Homo sapiens: one gene and its partners. The protein of the gene in region 2 interacts with the protein of the main gene of each other region in a biochemical or structural test. Each region holds a gene or a part of one and is shown on either strand. Other genes may lie near its edges.

Region 1 (4,491 bases), on a different chromosome or scaffold from region 2:
ATAAAGTATAGGATGTGATGACTGAAATTACAAGGAAATACAGAAACATTTGGGGACATCCATTGTCTTTCTGACATCTTCCCACTATGCCTGAGGAATTTCCGGATTTAGAAGCTGCAATTCCCACACAAGTGCAGTTGTAAAATATCTGTAACACGATAGGGAAAAGTCCAATTATTTCAGTAACATTTAAATAAAGTTAAAGACAGTTATGTTAAAAATGTTTACCGTAGCCATGCATTATGTAAACAATGAGGAAATATTCTTTTATTTTTTTGTATTACAGTATATTGAGCAAAGCAAAATCTATATAGATACAACATTTCATTATCTAAAGAGCAGATGACTATCTACAAACTACTAATCCTGTACAACAATCTCCCAGCAAATCCTGCCTAATCTAACCATACCTTACCTCCTTCGCTACCACTTCCAATGCTAAGTAACCATGATTTCTTGCCTAGATTGTTACAATGCTCCCTTTATGCGCAACTTGTTTCCAATCTTATCTAGCTAGTATCTGCTTTCCACCCAGTAAGTAAAGTGAACCTTTAAACATGGCAGTCAGACTGCATCACTACCCTCAACCTGCCAGTGGTTTCTCATCATACTTGCATGAAACCCCACATCCTTATAACAGTTTACACTTTCTCCATCATGTAGCACCTGGATGCCACTCTAATCTCACCATTCAGTGATCTTCCCTCTCTTCTTCTGTGTAAGCCACACACATGACCCTTGCAAAGGCCCCATTTTGCCCTTTCCAAACATCCCCTCAAACCTGGCAAGTTCATCCATGCCTCACGGCCCTGCTATTTTCTCTGCCCGGGCAGCTCTTCTCTTCGGTGATTACACAGCTGGCGTCCATACTTTAGTTCTCCGTTTAGAGGTTTTAATAGAGACCTTCTATGACTATCCATTTAAAAAAAAAAACAAAAAAAAACAACTCCCATCTCTCCATCTTCTTATTCTAATGTATGTCTTTTTTTTACAGTGCTTCTTACTACCTATCAGGATATCCTGTATTTACTTATTTTTAAAACATACTTTCCCAACAGAATGTAACCTCCATGAAAGCAGAAACTGCTGCTTTGTTATTATGCAACTGGGGAATGGAATAGACTCTCATTTTAGGCATTTGATAAAACTTAGTTAAGTAAATGGGAACAATTTGAGGATATGACATAATTTACAGTGGCTATGAGAAAAAAATAATTCTGGTGCATAAAACTCAACTAAATTTTGACTGAAGAGAGACAATTTGTATAACCCCTCAATAGTTTATTTCTGTAAATTTTATTTATGAATGCATATATATAATGTTATCATTTTTAATCACAAAAGAGTTTGTGAGTTTTTAGACCATAAATAAAGCTGGCATTTACTTTTCTAGAAAGAGTGGCAATATAGATTTTTTGTAATGTCAAGTTGAAACCTTTGAATCTTAATTCTGGTCGCTCACTAGATAAATGAGTTAAGCAAGTCCTTTGTATCTCAGTGCCTCAGTTCTCACATGAAGAAAATACTGAAAATAATGCAAATTATTTCAGGACCATGAGATTTAAATGTAATTTTGTTCTTTTAACACCAATCTTTAACCTTTCCTTGTAATGTCTTTTATAAATGGTAGCTCTCATTACAAAAAAACCTTCATGCAGCTGTGAGCAAAAATAACAGTAGCTGAAAGAAAAATAACAAAGGAAGAAAGCAAAGAAAAGAAAAAAAGAGAAGCATGAAAACATGTTTCAGATGAGTAGGTAGTCTTATTCATTGTTGCTAGAAACCAATCCTTTCTGCTGTAAATAAGTCAAAATAATAATACAATGAACAGAGTAAATTAACAAACTTAACTGTATATCTGTGGATATACAGCCTAAGTATTCATATCCAGTTGATAAGGATATATAAATAAATGAGATACATGGGTGGTCTAATTTTCTGCCCTCTAGGATTGTCAAATAAAGGCAAATTTAATCAGTCACAAATAGAAAGCAGTCTCAGAGAGCAAGGATAAGGAAGAGTCTGTTTGGGACAGGAATGGAAAGGTGTGCTGAGAAGGGTGAATCTGTTAATGATTGAAGTACTTTACATCCTTCACAATTGCTTTCTGTTAAGGATTGAATATTTTCCCAAAATTCATATGTTGAAATCCTAACCTTCAATGTGATGGTATTTGGAGTAAAGCATTTAGGAGGTAATTAGTTCATGAGGGTGTAGCCCTCATGAATGTGATTTTAGTGCCCTTATAAGAAGAGACAGGAGACCTGTCTCTCCCTGTCTGCTCTCTGCCATGTGAGGATAAAAGGTGAAGATGGTCATCTGCAAACCAGAAAGTGGGTCCTCACTAGGAACCAGTTCTGCTGGCACCTTGATCTTGGACTTCCCATCATCCAGAACTATGAGAAATAAATGTTTGTTGTTTAAGCCACCCATTCTATGGTATATTTGTTATAGCAGCCTGGACTGACTAAAATAGATTCCTACCTATATTTCCTACCTCATCTCCCTCTTCTGCCCTATGGAAACCCTCCATTCCAGCCCACCTGCCCTTTCATTATTATACAAATTGGCTTGATTTTCCAAAGTTGTCCTAGAACCATCAACCTCCTCATTATCAGATCCCTGACCCCAAGGTCTAGAATCTCTGGAGCTAAGCCTCCTAATACTGGCCTCTATTTGTTCATTCCCTAAAACCTCCAAGGACCACGGATCTTAGGGCCAGGGGACATGGATCTGAAAGCATATCTTATTATGATGATCATACGACAGACATTCTAATTCAGGGCTAACACTTCTTATAAGCAAAATGAGAGAAATAGACTACATAATTACAAAATCTCTTCCACCCTATTTGATGACTCTAATTCTCACCCTAATTTTTTCAGCAACTCCAGTACCACTAGGAATGGTTATAACATTTTCTTTTTCTACAAAAAAGGACCAGGCAGAGGTAAGAGGCAAGCCTCCTACTAGTAGTGGTCTGCTGTGAGCCCCCATAGAGTTTTGTTGTTTATATTGTAACAGGACCATCGCCATATACTTGAGAGGTGATTTCTTACAATATTTTTTCCACTCCTGTTGGAGGTTTGACAACCAGCAAGACAAGCTGATACATATGTGATTCCATTTTCACCGCACATGGGTTCCCATTTTGTCTCTGAACATTTGCATCTTGAGTTGCAATCTGAAAAGAGAGCTCGTTCATGATAAGAGACAGGTTTGGTTCTGAAAAGAAATATAACAATATAAAATATTACCTCTTAGCAGGTAGCACCCGAATATTTTCAAAAAATCAATGTTCTTGAGTGATATAAATGATACTATGAACAAAATTTGCCTTTTAGAAACACAGTTGTCATCAGAAATGGCAGCTTCTGGTCATGAAATGTGAGTTTACTAATAAACAGCTTTCTCTTGAAAGTTATCTTTAGAGGTTTACAAATTCACATGATGTCCAGTTCTTAGCTTATAGCTTTCAGTCTACAGCCTCTAGGATCTTCTAATATACTTCTGTGCAAAGGTGTATAAAAATAGCTAACAAGGTAGAAAAGTAAACTTTTAGAGCAATTTATGACACTACTTCAATGCATCACAGGTGGGGTGTGTGTGTGTGTTGTGTGTGTGCAAATTTCATTCAGAATTGTTGTCTAAGTATGAGTGGAATGGATATTACTAATGGTCCAGTAAAAGGAAAAATAGCCAATCAGTTATCAGTTAATTCTCTTTCAGTGTTTGCAGGAGTTACATGTCCTCTTGCATGTGTGTAACCAACAAGTGCATTCCCAGTTCATTCAACCTTTCTCCTGTGTATCCTCCCAGTGTATAGTGCTCTTTCATATCTTATAGCATCCTTTCTTACTCAAATTCACAAGTAAGTTCAATGACTTACCCATTTATTTGTTGATAAAATTTTACTGGAAGCCTACTAAGTGCTAGCTCCGGGAGAATAGGAGATGGTTACAAACATTAATGAGACAAAATTTGCACCCCCCCCCAAAATTGGTTTTTTTGAGTTATTTCACAAAATTGTGATTGCATTCTTTCTTTTCTCCTTCATTTTTTTTTGTTCTCTGCCATTCGCTTTTATATTTATCCTTCATCTCTCCCAGTATTCTCTCTCCCTCACTTTTTTTTCTGTCACCTGAATGGCCTAATCCTTCTGCTTTTATCCTTTTTTTTGCTATTCATATTCCTCTACTCTTCTCAAAAGGAACTTTTGCAATGGTATGTCATTTCTATCTGCACCATATGTGCCATTCATTGGCCCTCCATACTTCATTTTTTCTGCTCCTTATTTTCAAATTTATTTATTTGCTTATTCCTCATATCTTTCCTCCCATTTTTTATAAAGATAGCTGAGGAGCTTAAACAAACAAAAAATACACTGAACTGTACAATCAAGAGAGGCAGGAACTATTTTTGTATTCACTCCCATATGTCCAGAACCAGGAATAATTCCTGTCACACAGCAAGCTAAGAAACAAAATTTCC
Region 2 (5,483 bases):
TGTGTATTCCACAGTTTTTGGTGTAGAGGATGGTGTATCTGATTGTATTTATTCTACTTAAGTTTTTTTCTCCTGTGATATTTCTTTCTTTTTTTTGAGACAGAGTCTCACTCTGTCGCCCAGGCTGGAGTGCAGTGGCACAATCTTGGTTCACTGCAACCTCTGCTTCCTGGGTTTAAGTGATTCTCATGCCTCAGCCTCCCAAGTAGCTGGGATTACAGATGTGCACCATCACGCCTGGCTATTTTTTGTATTTTTAATAGAGACGGGGTTTTGCCCTGTTGGCCAGGCTGGTCTCAAGCTCCCGGCCCCATGTGATCCACCTACCTTGGCCTCCCAAAGTGCTGAGATTACAGGCGGGGGAGCCCCTGCGCTGGTATTGGTATTTCTAATAGTGCTTTATTACTCAATGATAGAAGTGCTGAAGTAAAACAGATTTTCAATTTTAACTCTATAAAATTGTGCTAAGAAAATGATGGCGTTACAAAATGTAACCAACCGGTTATCTAGTTGCATTCTGAATCTCTGAATCTGTTCTGCTAGTATGAAGGCTTGAGAGTGGCTATCTAGCAGTATGAACTTATTGTCAGTTTTGCCTAGTTCAGCTAAAAATTTTGAGCTAAAACATTTTGTTTCATCTTAGTCGTGGATTGTAATTTGAAAGAGAACTTCAGACATGAAGTACTAAATAAGTGATATAAGCCATTTTGGCACAAAATGGAATAACAATGCCTTAAATTTGATAAAAACTAGGTGGATTCGGGCTTTATCATTTTCATTTCAACTCCAATACCACAAAGTTTCAGTTCTCTGTGGAGTCCTAGAATGTTCTTCCAATAATCTTGAGCTTACGGTAGACATAAGTTTTAGCAAAAATGTCAGTGTGTTCAGTTACAGTGGTGAAGTAGATTCCCTGCTGGGAACAAAGGATTCTGTGTGCCATATTCAGATGTACAACATTCCAGAATGAGAGTCATGCAAGAAACTGCCTCAGGACAAGCCAGAGTTGTCATATTTTTAATATGTTTTCTTACTGTTACAGAAGTTCAAACAGTTGAATGATATAAATTGTTTTGTACTATGGGTCCAATATAGTATTGATGTGTGACTTTTATATCTGAGACATTTTGTCTTGAGTTTAAGTTAGTTGTCTTCATTGGCAGGGGTGATTTGAGGTGAGTTTCACTTTCTTGAACCCATGTGCCTGATAATTAGAGGGTTCAGGATAAGTTTTGCACATAGCCTTGCTGCCTGCTTATCTTTGTAAAATGGCCCTTTCCTTCAGTCAGTATTTTAAAGTAGGCTACTCTATATAGTTTCCCAAACTCTGGTAGGATACTTTTAACTCTCTGCAGCAGATAGTATAGGGCAAGGGCTCTTTACTAGAGCCAAAAGTAAATGGCATTTTAGGTCCTTGCTCCAACCAGAAAGGTTCACTCCATATTACAGATGTTACTATTAGGAAGAGGTTATAGTGTCTAGAATGTTTGAAAACAAATGTTTGTAGGGAAACAGTGTGTGTTCTTGAAGCTTGTAGTTTTGTTGGTGAGATAAGACAAAATATGTGAAAACCTAAATAGTGGTATAAAACAGGATATATTGAGTCCCAGATGGTTCATAATATGAGTCGTGAAGATGCCAAAGCAAAGGTAACCATTGTGGCCGTGACAGGGTTGGAAAGGAGCTCCTGAGGTTGGGAGAGACAGAAGGAAAGCTATGAAGGTCGCTCCTTGTTCTTTGGCCATCTCTGACTCATCCTATATTATTTGGTTAGGAAAGGAATTATCTCACAGTTTTTATCTTCTGTTTGCAGCCTGAAGAGTTGAGAGAAATCATTGAGAAGACAAGAGAGATGGAGCAGAACAATGGCCACTACTTTGATACGGCAATTGTGAATTCCGATCTTGATAAAGCCTATCAGGAATTGCTTAGGTTAATTAACAAACTTGATACTGAACCTCAGTGGGTACCATCCACTTGGCTGAGGTGAAAGAAACATCCATTCTGTGGCATGTTGGACTTGATCTGGCAAAAACTGCCAATAGGAGGACTGCCCGACACTGCAGCAAGATTGAGGATAAGATGGAAGGCAGCAGTATAAGCTGTAGATCTGTTCTTAGATCTCTTGAATTAGTGAGACGACAGTTCCCTTAGGCAGTTTGTGCATGGCATCCTTTATTCTCTATACATGGCTTTAGCGGTTCTTGCCTCATTTTGGGATTCTAAATGGAAGCTTTCAACAGAGCATTCCATTTTGTCCTGTTAAAACCTTTTGTTTTCACCTAAACCCTTTCTGCTTAGTTGTATCTCTGTGAAAAACTTGTATACACAAGCGTCCATGTCTCACACAAATATTGATGTGATTATTCTTAAGTGTTAAATCATTAACACTTAAATGACTTCATTGGGAATATTGAGCAGAGGGACTGTGCTTCTATGCACTGGGCAAGGCAGTATTTGCTTAGGAAACTAATTTAGTCATCAGAGATACTTTCCTAAAAAGGAAAAATAAAAAACAAAATGGTGCCACTTTGGGTTGAAGCTACTTTGTTAGGCTTGAATTCATTTATATGTCTTTTGATTCTTAAAAAAACAAAAAACATTCCATTAGAAGCACCAGTTTTTTTGCTCAGACTTTGTGGATCAGACTCTACACTCAACACACTCTAATCTACTTAAAGGTATACAAAATATGCTGATCTTTTTTAAATTATGATTTCCTGAATTTTTTTCTTAAGTCGTCTCAACTGATTTACTCACTTAGCTTCCCTTCCCTCATCAGCATAGTATAATAGAATGTATGTTACATTTTTATGAATGGCAGGTGTTCATTATAATCTGTATTGACTTAAAAAGTTTCTTCCTCATGATGCTAATAGTTTTTTGTATACATGGGAGGATAGCACATTTGACAGTTTTTGCATTTTTATGTATGAGCACAGTATCCTATGACTGTGCTACGTATATATAGGTAATAAACTGGAATTCTGTTGATGAATATAGCTGCTGTACTGTATATTAATATTTAATAGATCAACAAATGGTCATTGAAAACACTTGTTTAGCATTAGAATAAAATTATATATGTCCTTGGGAAATATTATGACAGTTGACTTTAAGATCAAAAGGAAGGGAAGACCTGAAAGTCATTTGAACATTTTAGGAAAAGAATATTGGAGAGAAAAAGGTATTAAATATATAGAAATAGGTTTTTAACCTAACAAGGTCTGCCTCTTATGACGAGAATGCAACAGCTTGGTAAATCATAAAAGAAACATTTAAGCTAATAGGATTTTCGTACTGTCTCTATAGCTGTAGCTTTAAAATTCAACGTATATAATTGGCATGGAAACTTAATTTGCAGTCTTTTCAAGCCTTTAGGATAGTGTGATGTGTAACAAACAACCTCAAATGTGAATGCCTTGATTTTATTTTTATGGTGACTTTAGCTACAGCATTTCCTATACCCAGAGCTAAACACTGGAATAATACTGACATCATTTAATTTAACATAAGCAATTATGTTTAAGGAGTAATTTGTGTCATGTACATATTTGATTGATTTTTTTTCTTCTACATAATTTTATTTGAACAAATGTAGACAGTTTATATGTCGCCTTTTTCTGTTCAAATTTGCATGGCCTATTAAGTTGGCTGGAGAGTGTTTTATGTGGAAATATTTTCAAGATAATGTTCCTTAGGAAGAAAATAACATTCTTGGGTTGAGGGAAGGAATGCCATACACTACTGTCTCTTCAGATCTGAAATACTCCAGTTTAGAGCCAGGAAATTTCACAGGTCACACCGATTTTTAGCATTAAAAACTAAGGAATATACTTAGCACTTACTTAATCTTTTCAGTTTTCCAGTTTACGTCTCAGGAATGAAGTGTAGTCTATGGTTGACAATGGAGTTTTGTGATCCTGCTTATTGTAACTGACAACTGTTTTCAACTCCAAGAGCTAAACTATTGGCAGTTCATGTTAAGTTAGAGTGAGGGTGTAGGTAGTGTCAGTGAGTGGCTCTTGTGCCTGCTGTAGACATTAGGCCTGCACTAGGGCCATGTGCTGTCAAGATTCAGGAACATGGCTTTAACAAGCAGATCTTGTATCAAGGCAGAGGTGATGCCATGCCATACTTTTAGGAAGTCTGAGATGATAAATATTTCAAGGTCAGTGAAGTCTATCAATCATTCTCCCCTTCCTCATCAGCAATGGTAGATAGAAATGTCCTAAACTTTTCTAAATCCTAGTGATGAGGATGTGCTGATATTCAACATAGTCCTTAAAGTGAAAACTGAGTTGTTGCTGACCTCCACAAAAGAATATGGAAAAAAGCCTTGCTGTACACCTAGTTGTACAGCCACTCTGGCCAATTCCATTTCCTGTCCCTCTGTGGTTCTGACTGGAGACCCCAGTGTGGGGGAGGTCTTACCATTTAATATAGAAATGATATCAATAACTAATGCTATGTACTTGGAAAATCCAAATAAGGAAGTTTTAGGTTGGTGCATAACTTTGTTTCTCAAATTTTCGTTGTCAGAACAAATGGAAGGAGAATATTATTTAGACTAATCCAGATTTGCTTTCTATGAAAATCTAATGTCTGGATTATCTTCCTTTTCTCATGGCCTAAGAAATAAGGATCAATAAGGAATGATTTGAATGTAATTTTGTGAATGTGTGGAAAATATAAAGCAGGGATTTAGCCTTAATAAAGGTAACCTTCTGACATCTGTTGTTAATCCCCCTTTGTACTCTTTTCCTGTATCTGCACTGTTATTTTGAGATGTCATACTGTACACTGTATTGTAAAAATAAAAAGTAAAATTATATTTCAAATTTTAAAAGCCACTAAGCAATTTCTCTTGCTATTTGCTCGGCCACTCAAGGTTTCCACACATGTAAAGACCACCCTCCTCTTCAAGTTTTTGCCAAAAGCAAGACCATTGGATCCTCCAGCTACAACACAAAATACTTTTTGATTTGTTCTTTACAGAGGGATAGTGCCCCCTGTTGGCACAGGTATAGGTAGGTCCTGTTTCCTTAATTATTAAAACCAACAACTAAGTGTATTAAAGATGGACAACGCAAGGCTGTGAACTTGAAAGTTTTCTGGAGAAGGAGGTATGTAATAATACTCAGGCAAATGGACCTTATGTGCAGCCTGGGATCTGAGGACACTGAGGCAGCATGTGAATTATTGGCAAATATATAACATATTTTGTTTCTCCAGTCTTCATTTCTCCTTTTTTTCTGCTGTACATCTCCCAAAGGTCATAAATCATACACCAACAAACAAAAAGTTTCTTACATATATACACCTGTCACCACAGTTCAGCTTTCCATTCCTATTCCTGATCTATATTCTTCTCCTATGTTTCAGATAACTGACTCCACACAACAAATTATGTGTCCATTGTTTTCTTGATTTCTTTTTAACAAATGCTAAACTATAAAGTCATCTGCACTTTTGTAAGTATT
Region 3 (4,491 bases), on a different chromosome or scaffold from region 2:
CATGCACACACAGGCACTGCACACACATGCACCCGGTGCACACACATACACGTGGATGCACACACATGCATGCACATGGTGCACAGGCATATTCACACATGTGCATGCTGCCCATACACACAGCCCCGCACATGGCAGGACTGAGCTAAGCTTCCTGAGGCTACACATGGCAGGGTTGCCCAAGCCAAACAGAACCTCAAACTCCTGGGGGCCCCAGGGATGTGCAGAAATGGGGCTGCCAGGGGGCCTCCACTGACGATTCCCCAAGTTGGATGGAGATGGCCGAGGATGGGAAGGGAAGGGTTCCAGGCAGGGGTGCTAGCTCCTGTTCCCACTCAACCTGGCCTGACCTGGCAGAGCTCCAGGTGGTGCAGAGGCCGTTCAGGGGCTGTACGTGCTGTGGGGCCCTGCAGGAGCCCCCTGGGGGCAGCTGTTGACCACCCTGCAGCCCCACACGGGGTCTGGCGTTGGTGGGAGCCTCCACACCTGGGATGCCAGAGGGGACTTTCTGTCCCATGTCTGTTGTCCATCCAGACGCTCTGCCTCAAGACCCAGGGCCACTCCGAAAGGTACAAGGCTGCCAGCCGTGCACTGAAGGCCATCAGCAAGGTAAGATGGGGCCTGGCCCCAGCCCTACCCGAGTCCTGTACCCCGACCCTGTCCCCACCCAACCCCACCCTACCCGATGGCATAGGGCTGGCTTCCCCTACCTTCCAGGGCAGCGAGTGTTCTCAGATTATCCATCCCAAGCCTTTCACAGCGCTGACAGGGAAACTGAGGCCCAGAGGTTCCCAGATTATCCATCCCAAGCCTTTCACAGCGCTGACAGGGAAACTGAGGCCCAGAGGTTCCCAGATTATCCATCCCAAGCCTTTCACAGCGCTGACAGGGAAACTGAGGCCCAGAGGTTCCCAGATTATCCATCCCAGGCCTTTCACGGCGCTGACAGGGAAACTGAGGCCCAGAGGTTCCCAGATTATCCATCCCAGGCCTTTCACGGCGCTGACAGGGAAACTGAGGCCCAGAGGTTCCCAGATTATCCATCCCAGGCCTTTCACGGCGCTGACAGGGAAACTGAGGCCCAGAGGTTCCCAGATTATCCATCCCAGGCCTTTCACGGCGCTGACAGGGAAACTGAGGCCCAGAGGTTCCCAGATTATCCATCCCAGGCCTTTCACGGCGCTGACAGGGAAACTGAGGCCCAGAGGTTCCCAGATTATCCATCCCAGGCCTTTCACAGCGCTGACAGGGAAACTGAGGCCCAGAGGTTCCCAGATTATCCATCCCAGGCCTTTCACAGCGCTGACAGGGAAACTGAGGCCCAGAGGTTCCCAGATTATCCATCCCAGGCCTTTCACAGCGCTGACAGGGAAACTGAGGCCCAGAGGTTCCCAGATTATCCATCCCAGGCCTTTCACAGCGCTGACAGGGAAACTGAGGCCCAGAGGTTCCCAGATTATCCATCCCAGGCCTTTCACAGCGCTGACAGGGAAACTGAGGCCCAGAGGTTCCCAGATTATCCATCCCAGGCCTTTCACAGCGCTGACAGGGAAACTGAGGCCCAGAGGTTCCCAGATTATCCATCCCAAGCCTTTCACAGTGCTGACAGGGAAACTGAGGCCTAGAGCCAGTGGAGCTCTCACACAGTTGATGAGCCCGTGGCACGGCTGGTCCAGGGCAGGCACTGTGGGCAGCCAGAGGCTGGCTGGGCAGGTGTCCTGGGCACACTGTGGGCCGTGTGGGCTGTGCCAGGGCCCTGTAGCACCAGCCTCTCACACGGGAACCATGCCCTGCAGCTGGTGAGGCAGTGCAACGAGGGGGCCCACAGGATGGAGCGCATGGAGCAGATGTACACGCTGCACACACAGCTGGACTTCAGCAAGGTCAAGGTAGGTGGCCCCGGACATCAGGGCCACTCGGACCACTTCCCACTCAGCCCTCCCTGCTGGCCTGCGTGTGAGGTCACACCCCTGAGCCTGAGGGCTGGAGAGTGGGTGCCTGCCCTCATGAGGCCTGGGGGCTGGGCCTCCTAGGGCTGGTGGCTCTGGTCTCTCCAGGCCTCAGTCTCCCGATCTGGGAGCGCCCCTTGTGGACCCCTCCCCTAATCCCACTGGGTGGGCCTCTGTGGCCCTTGCCCCATCCCCAGGACTGCACCGGCAAAGGGTAGACCCTAGGCCCTGAGTGACCAAGCCCAGGGGGCAACAGGAGTGGCCCTGTCAGTGCACTTGCCTGGGGCCAGCGCTCCTTGCTGGCCCCTCAGGGGCTGGGCAGGGCCTGAGGACAGAGCGGAGGGGACAGGGTGATTTCAGGGCCAGCCCAGATTCCATGTTTCCCAGTGAGGCTTGGATTCTGGGTAGGGTGAAATATTTCCAGCCCAGGCCCGGGCAGCCCTAGTCCCTGCCACAAACGGGCAGGGCTCATACCTCTCCCTCCAGAGCCCCCCACCCACGATCCCACACACTGGCCGCATCCTCTGTTGTCCTGGGACAGCCCAGGGCCCCTCCCCTAAGGCGGGCCCAGGTGGGTCTCCTGTCCTGGTGCCCCATCCAGGGGGTGTCCTTCAGGGTGGAGCAAGAAGTGGGTGACAGGCCACCAGCCACCCTCACTCAGGGCCACGGACAACCAAGTAAGGGTGCGGGGTCCCAGCTGGGGGAGGGGGCTCCCGGGGTGGGTCAGGGCGGGCTGCCTGGGGCAGGCGTCAGGGCGGTGACTTCGCGCCGCTGTCGCTGAGCCCACACCCGTGCAGCCCTCACGCTTGTCTCCCTGATCCTCTCGAGTCTGGGGTGTAACGCCTGCCCCTGCCAGAGCAAGGACCCCCTCCCAGGCCTGGTCCACCCCTGAGTGGGGCTCTCACCCCCACATGGTCTTGAAGTTGGTCTTGGAAACGGGTGTGGGGGTGGGGAGAACAGGCCCATCCAGGAGGGAGGGTGGTGGCAGAGGCCGGGAGCGGGAGGTGCCGGGGGCTCTGAGTCTGTAGTGGGCACAGGTGGGGAAGCCGGGGCCCACAGGGAGCAGGTGAGGAGGTGTCAACAGTCGCTGAGGAGCGGGAGCTGGTGGGCAGGCTCCTCATTCCCACTCTGCCCTCCCCCCCACCCTGTACTGCCACCCCCTACTGCGACACCCATCCCCGTCACCCCCACACTACCCACCCCATCACCCCCACACTGCCCACCCTCTGGCCTTTGCCATCCTTCTGCCCCCCACTGACTCCAGCAACTCAGCACCAGGCAGCAGGGAGGATGTTCTGTGGCTCAGGAGCCAGGAAAGGCCCCAGACGTGGAGCGTGGCCATCACGGGTGGGCCTGCCCCTGCCAACCCTCCCTCGGGGCTGAGCAGGTCCTTGTGCCTAGGAGGCCCAGCGTCTGCGTAATTGCCACGGAGGGGTGAGGTGTGTGTGGAGGCTTCCCCAGCACTGGCCTTCGAGTCCTGGCTTGGGTGAAATGTTCAGTGGTCACCCAGCCCTGGGCTATCGGGCAGGGTCTGGTCCGGCCTGGCGCACCTCGATTTGAGGCCCGGACACATTGTGCCCCTTTCCTCTGTCCAGCCCCGACTGAGGGCAGCCAGCTGGTCACCCAGTCCAGAGGCAGGAGTCAGTCCCACCTGGTGCTATGCGTCCTTGACCCCCTGGGGACCTGCTCACCCCGGCTCTGTCCCCCCCAGTCCCTCGCACTGATCTCCGCCTCCCGGCTCTGTCCCCCCAGTCCCTCCCACTGATCTCTGCCTCCCGGTGGCTGCTGAAGCGCGGAGAGCTGTTCTTAGTGGAAGAAACCGGACTTTTTCGAAAAATTGCCAGCCGGCCAACGTGCTACCTTTTCCTGTTCAACGATGTCCTGGTTGTGACCAAGAAGAAGAGGTGGCCTTAGGGCAGGAGGGTGTGGGGAGCCCCACTCCATGGACACTGGACCGCTGGCCCTGGGGCAGGAGGGTACAGGGAGTTGGCCCTGAGCCCCTCTGACCTCAGAGCCGAGGCGCGGCTTCCACTCGGCACATGCTCTACGTGACACTCGGGGGCAGGTGGCGCTCGCTGTGCAGCCTCTGACCTCCTCTGCAGACCTGGGTCTGCCGGTGATAGCCACGAGGAGGACTCGAAAGCCATGGCCTCTGTTCTGTGGGACGCGGGAACTCTTGGAGCCCGTCCGTGGCTGCCTCCCCACCACTGCAGGGGAGCCGGGTGGGACCTGGACGGGAGCCCAGCAGCACTGGGTAGGAGCTGGGTGGGACCGTCCCACCGACTGCCCGTGTCTCCACAGCGAGGAGAGCTACATGGTCCAGGACTACGCCCAGATGAACCACATCCAGGTGGAGAAGATAGAGCCGTCTGAGCTCCCTCTGCCCGGGGGCGGCAACCGTAGCTCCTCCGTGCCCCACCCCTTCCAGGTGACCCTGCTTCGCAACAGCGAGGGCCGCCAGGAGCAGCTCCTGCTCTCCTCGGACTCCGCGTAAGTGGGCTCCCGGGAGGGCTGTTCCCAGGCCACAGGCACATTAGCTCCA
Region 4 (4,491 bases), on a different chromosome or scaffold from region 2:
CAATATTGGTCCAGACTTGGAAGAAACAGGCTATATTCAGACATCAATGCTCATAAAAAGCTATGAGCGTAGCTGGCTGGTACACACCAGCTACCCTAGTTGTGCTACTCCAGGAGATTTCAGCTGCTTGGAATCAATTTCATTTGAAACACGTGACTCTTAGAGTGCAATTTTTTTTGAAGCAGCAACTTTTCTGGCAAAGTGAAGTACTTTTCCAAACACCAGATCCATATACTAAATGCCTAATTCAATGCCATGGAACAGATCTAAGCTTGTAGGGAGATTTTAGAGGAGGAGCCAGTGGAGAAAAATAGGAGACAGGAAAGGATATCAGGTGACTTGAGGTGGAGGTGGGGAGGACAGCGTCTTGTTGACTGTGGAATCTCTGATAGAAATAGGTGGGGCACTTACGATCACTAGAAAGGCTGGATATAGTTTACTTGGAGCTTGTAAAGTAGAGCCACAGAAATGAGCCATCATCACATGGAATGAGTTTTGAAATGTCAGAAGGCTAGCACAAAATTATTGAGACACTGTTTAAACCATTCATTCTCTGGGCACTTTGGTGTTCTCATCTACAAAAATAGGAGTTTAGGTATATGAAAATGTACAATACCTAGAACAAACCAATTCTGAAAAAAAGAATCAAGTGGGGGACTTTCATCTCCCAATTTCAAAAACTACTGTAAAGCTATAGTTATCAAGATAGTGTGGTACTTGCATAGGATAGACACATAAATAAATAGAACAGAAGTGAGAGTCCAGAAATAAACCCTTGCATTTGTGGTCAATTGATTTTTGACAAAGGTGCCAACACGATTCACTGGGGAAAGGATAGCTGTTTTGAAAAATGGCTCTAGATCCGGGCGCGGTGGCTCATGCCTATAATCCTATCGCTTTGGGAAGCTGAGGCGGGCGGATTGCCTGACCTCAGGAATTCGAGACCAGCCTGGGCAAAATGGTGAAACTCCGTCTCTACTAAATTACAAAAAATTAGTCAAGCATGGTATCATGCACCAGTAGTCCCAGCTACTTGGGAGGCTGAGGCAGGAGAATTACTTGAACCCAGGAGGCAGAGGTTGCAGTGAGCCGAGATCATGCCACTGCACTCCAGCCTAGGCGACAGAACAAGACTCCGTCTCCAAGAAAATAAAAAAAATAAACAAATAAATAAATTAAAATGGTGGTGAGATAATTAGATATCCACAGGCAAAAAGATAAACTTAGACTCTTACCTTAGACCCTCACACTATACGTAAAAATTAACTCAAAGTAGATCATACACTTAAATGTATTAATAAGAGCTAAAACAATACAAACTTTAGAAGAAAACTTAGGAGCAAATTTTTAAGATCTCAGATTAGGCAAAGATTTCTTACAGATGGCACCAAAAGCATGGTCCATAAAGAAAAAAACTGATCAATTGGACCGCCTTAGAATTCAATACTTTTGTATTTCAAAGATACCACTAAGAAAATGAAAAGACCAGCAAGAGACTGGGAGAAAATATTTGCAAATCACATATCTGACAAAGTTCCTGTTTCTCAGCCCAGGCCTGCTTTGAGAAAGAGGTTCTAGTGGTGGTGGCAAGGGTGGGGTGTTGTGGGGTGGGGTGTCACACTTTTTACTTATAGCTTCAATGTACCACAAGAACTCTGAGACTGACTTAGGCCTTGTCTGAAGTATGAAAGTGCGAGAAGGTGCCATGCAGGCCAACACTGGATAGGGTAAAATTAACGGGTTCAGGGGAACCAGGTTAGGAACACCAAAAACAAATAGAGGGATGTTTGATACTTTGCAACTTTGTCAAGTGAAAACAGATCTGAAGCCACTACTGAAACCTGGTTAAACTTTCACAGACAGAACAAAGGTGGGCGATTTGCTAAATTGAGTCAACATAATCTGTTGTCAGTAACAGTAACACAGGTAGCTGTGTTTACACAGAAATCCACAGGTCTGGATTTGAAGGCAGCTCAAGTTTAGGATGCCAGTGCAGTCATCCAAAATTTGGCACACACTGTCCCGCTAGACTAGTCTTGGGGCCAATGCATTTTACTTCCAGTGGGTCCCTTTCTTTCTGTTGCTTGTCTGAGAGGTAGAGAATGTAGGAATACGTATGTGTATTGTGATAGTGTGTTTGCATGTAGGGAAGGGAGTTTCTTTTCCTTACTTGTATTGCCCTGGGTGTTCATCTCTTCTGGTGTTGAAGTCCAGAGAAATTTTAGCATCCAGTCCAATTCCGAAGTAGTTGTTCATGACACATTTTTCTTTGAAGCGTCTGAAATTATTCAAAGAAGAGGACAGACATTGGTGCAGGAAAGAAGTGCCGCTATCAATTGGGCATGAAGATGAATCTGCATGATGGAAAACCAGTGAGGGAAGGCCCCCTCCACACTGGGCACTAACTATAACATTTTTGAGAGGCACATGTAGATATCCTTTTGTGTGAACAACTAGCTTATTAGCTGTAAGAGGGAGTGCCTCGCCAGTTGGGAAGCTTCAGTGGGATTGGAACTCATAATAAAGAAGCAACATTGATGATTTTAGTCATCTTTGGAGGCCTTATGTATGAGTGGCCCATATTTTCTTCATATGTAGTATTAAGGGAAATACTGTTTACTCCTATAAAGAACTTTTGAATATCCTAGACACAAACGTGCCATGACAGTTAAGTCTGCACAACTGCTCTCAGTGATGTCCGACATCAAAGGGGAAAATGACCACACATTTGGAAGGAAAGACTGATAAAAGAGGGTAGATATGTACATAACAAAAAAGCCAAATTATTTGTCAAGTCTCCTGTGTCCATCTAGGGTGTCAGCATCAAAACCAGTGGTGTGCCATAGCCAGTTGGCACCAGCTCATGTAAACTGATTATGCATATCTCTTTCCAACTCCAGATTCAATGGCATTATATCACTAACTTAAATAGGCCATGGTGGAAGGGTTTACACCATAAATGAATCAGGGCTTTCTCCCCCAAGAGAGGAGGTTGTTAAACACTTTGCCAGTGCACTATTGATCAAAATTCATTAGGTAGATCCATGAGAGCTCAGACATAAATTTGAGCCAATGGTGAAGTGTGGGGGCAAGAATGCGGGTTGGAGACAGGAATAAAAATTGTTTTCTTAAATAAATTATTTAAGAAAACATAAATAATTTCTAGCTGTGTCCTTTTGAGAAATTAAATGGATACAGTTTAGCTGTTTAATCTTAGATTACTTTTTTATTCATTACCATACTGACCTTACATCTCTCACATGAGATTTGCCTCCCTCAACCACAGTCCAGAGATTGGAGTTTCTCTAACTAATGTCCAAACTGATCTTCTTAATGGAACTCAGAATGAGTGAGTGTGGCAGAACTTGGCTGCTGCCGATATTCTAAAGAGGGAGAACTGGTGAGACAGATGTCCTTAGATTTGCTGCCTAGTCCCCTAGTGACCATTTTAGTTTTTAGTATCTTCAACCATTTACTGTTAAGGGCAACAGTGAAAAAAAGCAAGTCCTCTGTAATAACAACAACTAACATTTATTAATTATTTATAATAATAACAATAATAACTGCAAATGCATATAACACTTAATTATGGGTGCCAAGCACTACTCAGTGCAAGTACTTTTCATATATAAATGTAATAAATACAGCAAACCCATGATGCAAGTTCTACAATGGTCTTCATTTTACATATGAGAAAACTGAGGCTCACACTGGTTTAGTCACTTGCGTAGGTGACACAGCTAGTAAGTAAGAGAAAGGATTTGACTATGGATATCCTAAGATTGTGCTCTTAACAAGAGAAAGAAAGAAGCCATTAAAAGGTGATAGAGTTAAATACTTACATAGATTCAGGTGTAAAATGTAAGTGATCCAAGTTAAGGTTGTCCAGGTCCTCACTTTTGAGAGAAGATATAGAAGACAAAGTGCCACGACGAGAACCTAGACACAAAAGACATCACTTGGGTGACGGATACAAACAAAAAAGCCCTTTCCCCTCACTTGTATTTCGCCCTATTTTCTCTGTGGAGGCAGGGTCAAGCTCAGTGACTTTCTCCTAGATAATATTAAGGGTTCTAATTCCAAAGAGGGATCCTCTTGGATGGATAGGGACTTCCACTGAGAGAAGAATAAAGCTGGGCTGCTTGCTTGCTGGCAGTGAAAACAACTTCAAATCTTGTATTTCATCAGGCCAGCCTCTTCAATGTTCCTAATGGGGTCATTACTCTGGACATTGGCATGGGATCTTATAGTGTGAGTTTCTGGGAAAGACGGAGGGGTATCTACTGCAGGATTATGGCTAAAAGAGGATGCATAAAAAATACATATTTATTCTTTGGGAGCTAAACAACAGTGACGAAGGCTAGAATAAGGGAAGAAGACAGAAAGATCCTTACGGCGTCGTGGGCTTGTCTGGTTAATATCTTCTGGGTCATCTTCCAGGAAGAAAGTTGAACTAAAGTTCTTAACAGATATTGTCTGTCTGCTTTCCTC

What was found.
Region 1: the proteins of PALS1 (region 2) and SLCO1C1 interact in a test that uses a peptide from one of them, tested with the Homo sapiens proteins (one large-scale study listed by IntAct).
Region 3: the proteins of PALS1 (region 2) and ARHGEF16 interact in a test that uses a peptide from one of them, tested with the Homo sapiens proteins (one large-scale study listed by IntAct).
Region 4: the proteins of PALS1 (region 2) and DGKK interact in a test that uses a peptide from one of them, tested with the Homo sapiens proteins (one large-scale study listed by IntAct).

The regions. Positions count from the first base shown.
Region 1 is NC_000012.12:20,735,841-20,740,331, reverse strand, and holds part of SLCO1C1 (solute carrier organic anion transporter family member 1C1), read right to left. Parts: intron 3,226-4,491; coding exon 3,060-3,225; intron 149-3,059; coding exon 1-148. UniProt on the Homo sapiens protein: Mediates the Na(+)-independent high affinity transport of organic anions such as the thyroid hormones L-thyroxine (T4), L-thyroxine sulfate (T4S), and 3,3',5'-triiodo-L-thyronine (reverse T3, rT3) at the plasma membrane.
Region 2 is NC_000014.9:67,330,967-67,336,449, forward strand, and holds the end of PALS1 (protein PALS1), read left to right. Parts: intron 1-1,813; coding exon 1,814-1,990; 3' UTR 1,991-5,095; downstream 5,096-5,483. UniProt on the Homo sapiens protein: Plays a role in tight junction biogenesis and in the establishment of cell polarity in epithelial cells.
Region 3 is NC_000001.11:3,474,174-3,478,664, forward strand, and holds part of ARHGEF16 (rho guanine nucleotide exchange factor 16), read left to right. Parts: intron 1-534; coding exon 535-609; intron 610-1,796; coding exon 1,797-1,889; intron 1,890-3,701; coding exon 3,702-3,853; intron 3,854-4,250; coding exon 4,251-4,439; intron 4,440-4,491. UniProt on the Homo sapiens protein: Guanyl-nucleotide exchange factor of the RHOG GTPase stimulating the exchange of RHOG-associated GDP for GTP. May play a role in chemotactic cell migration by mediating the activation of RAC1 by EPHA2.
Region 4 is NC_000023.11:50,380,326-50,384,816, forward strand, and holds part of DGKK (diacylglycerol kinase kappa), read right to left. Parts: coding exon 4,395-4,491; intron 3,940-4,394; coding exon 3,843-3,939; intron 2,279-3,842; coding exon 2,171-2,278; intron 1-2,170. UniProt on the Homo sapiens protein: Diacylglycerol kinase that converts diacylglycerol/DAG into phosphatidic acid/phosphatidate/PA and regulates the respective levels of these two bioactive lipids.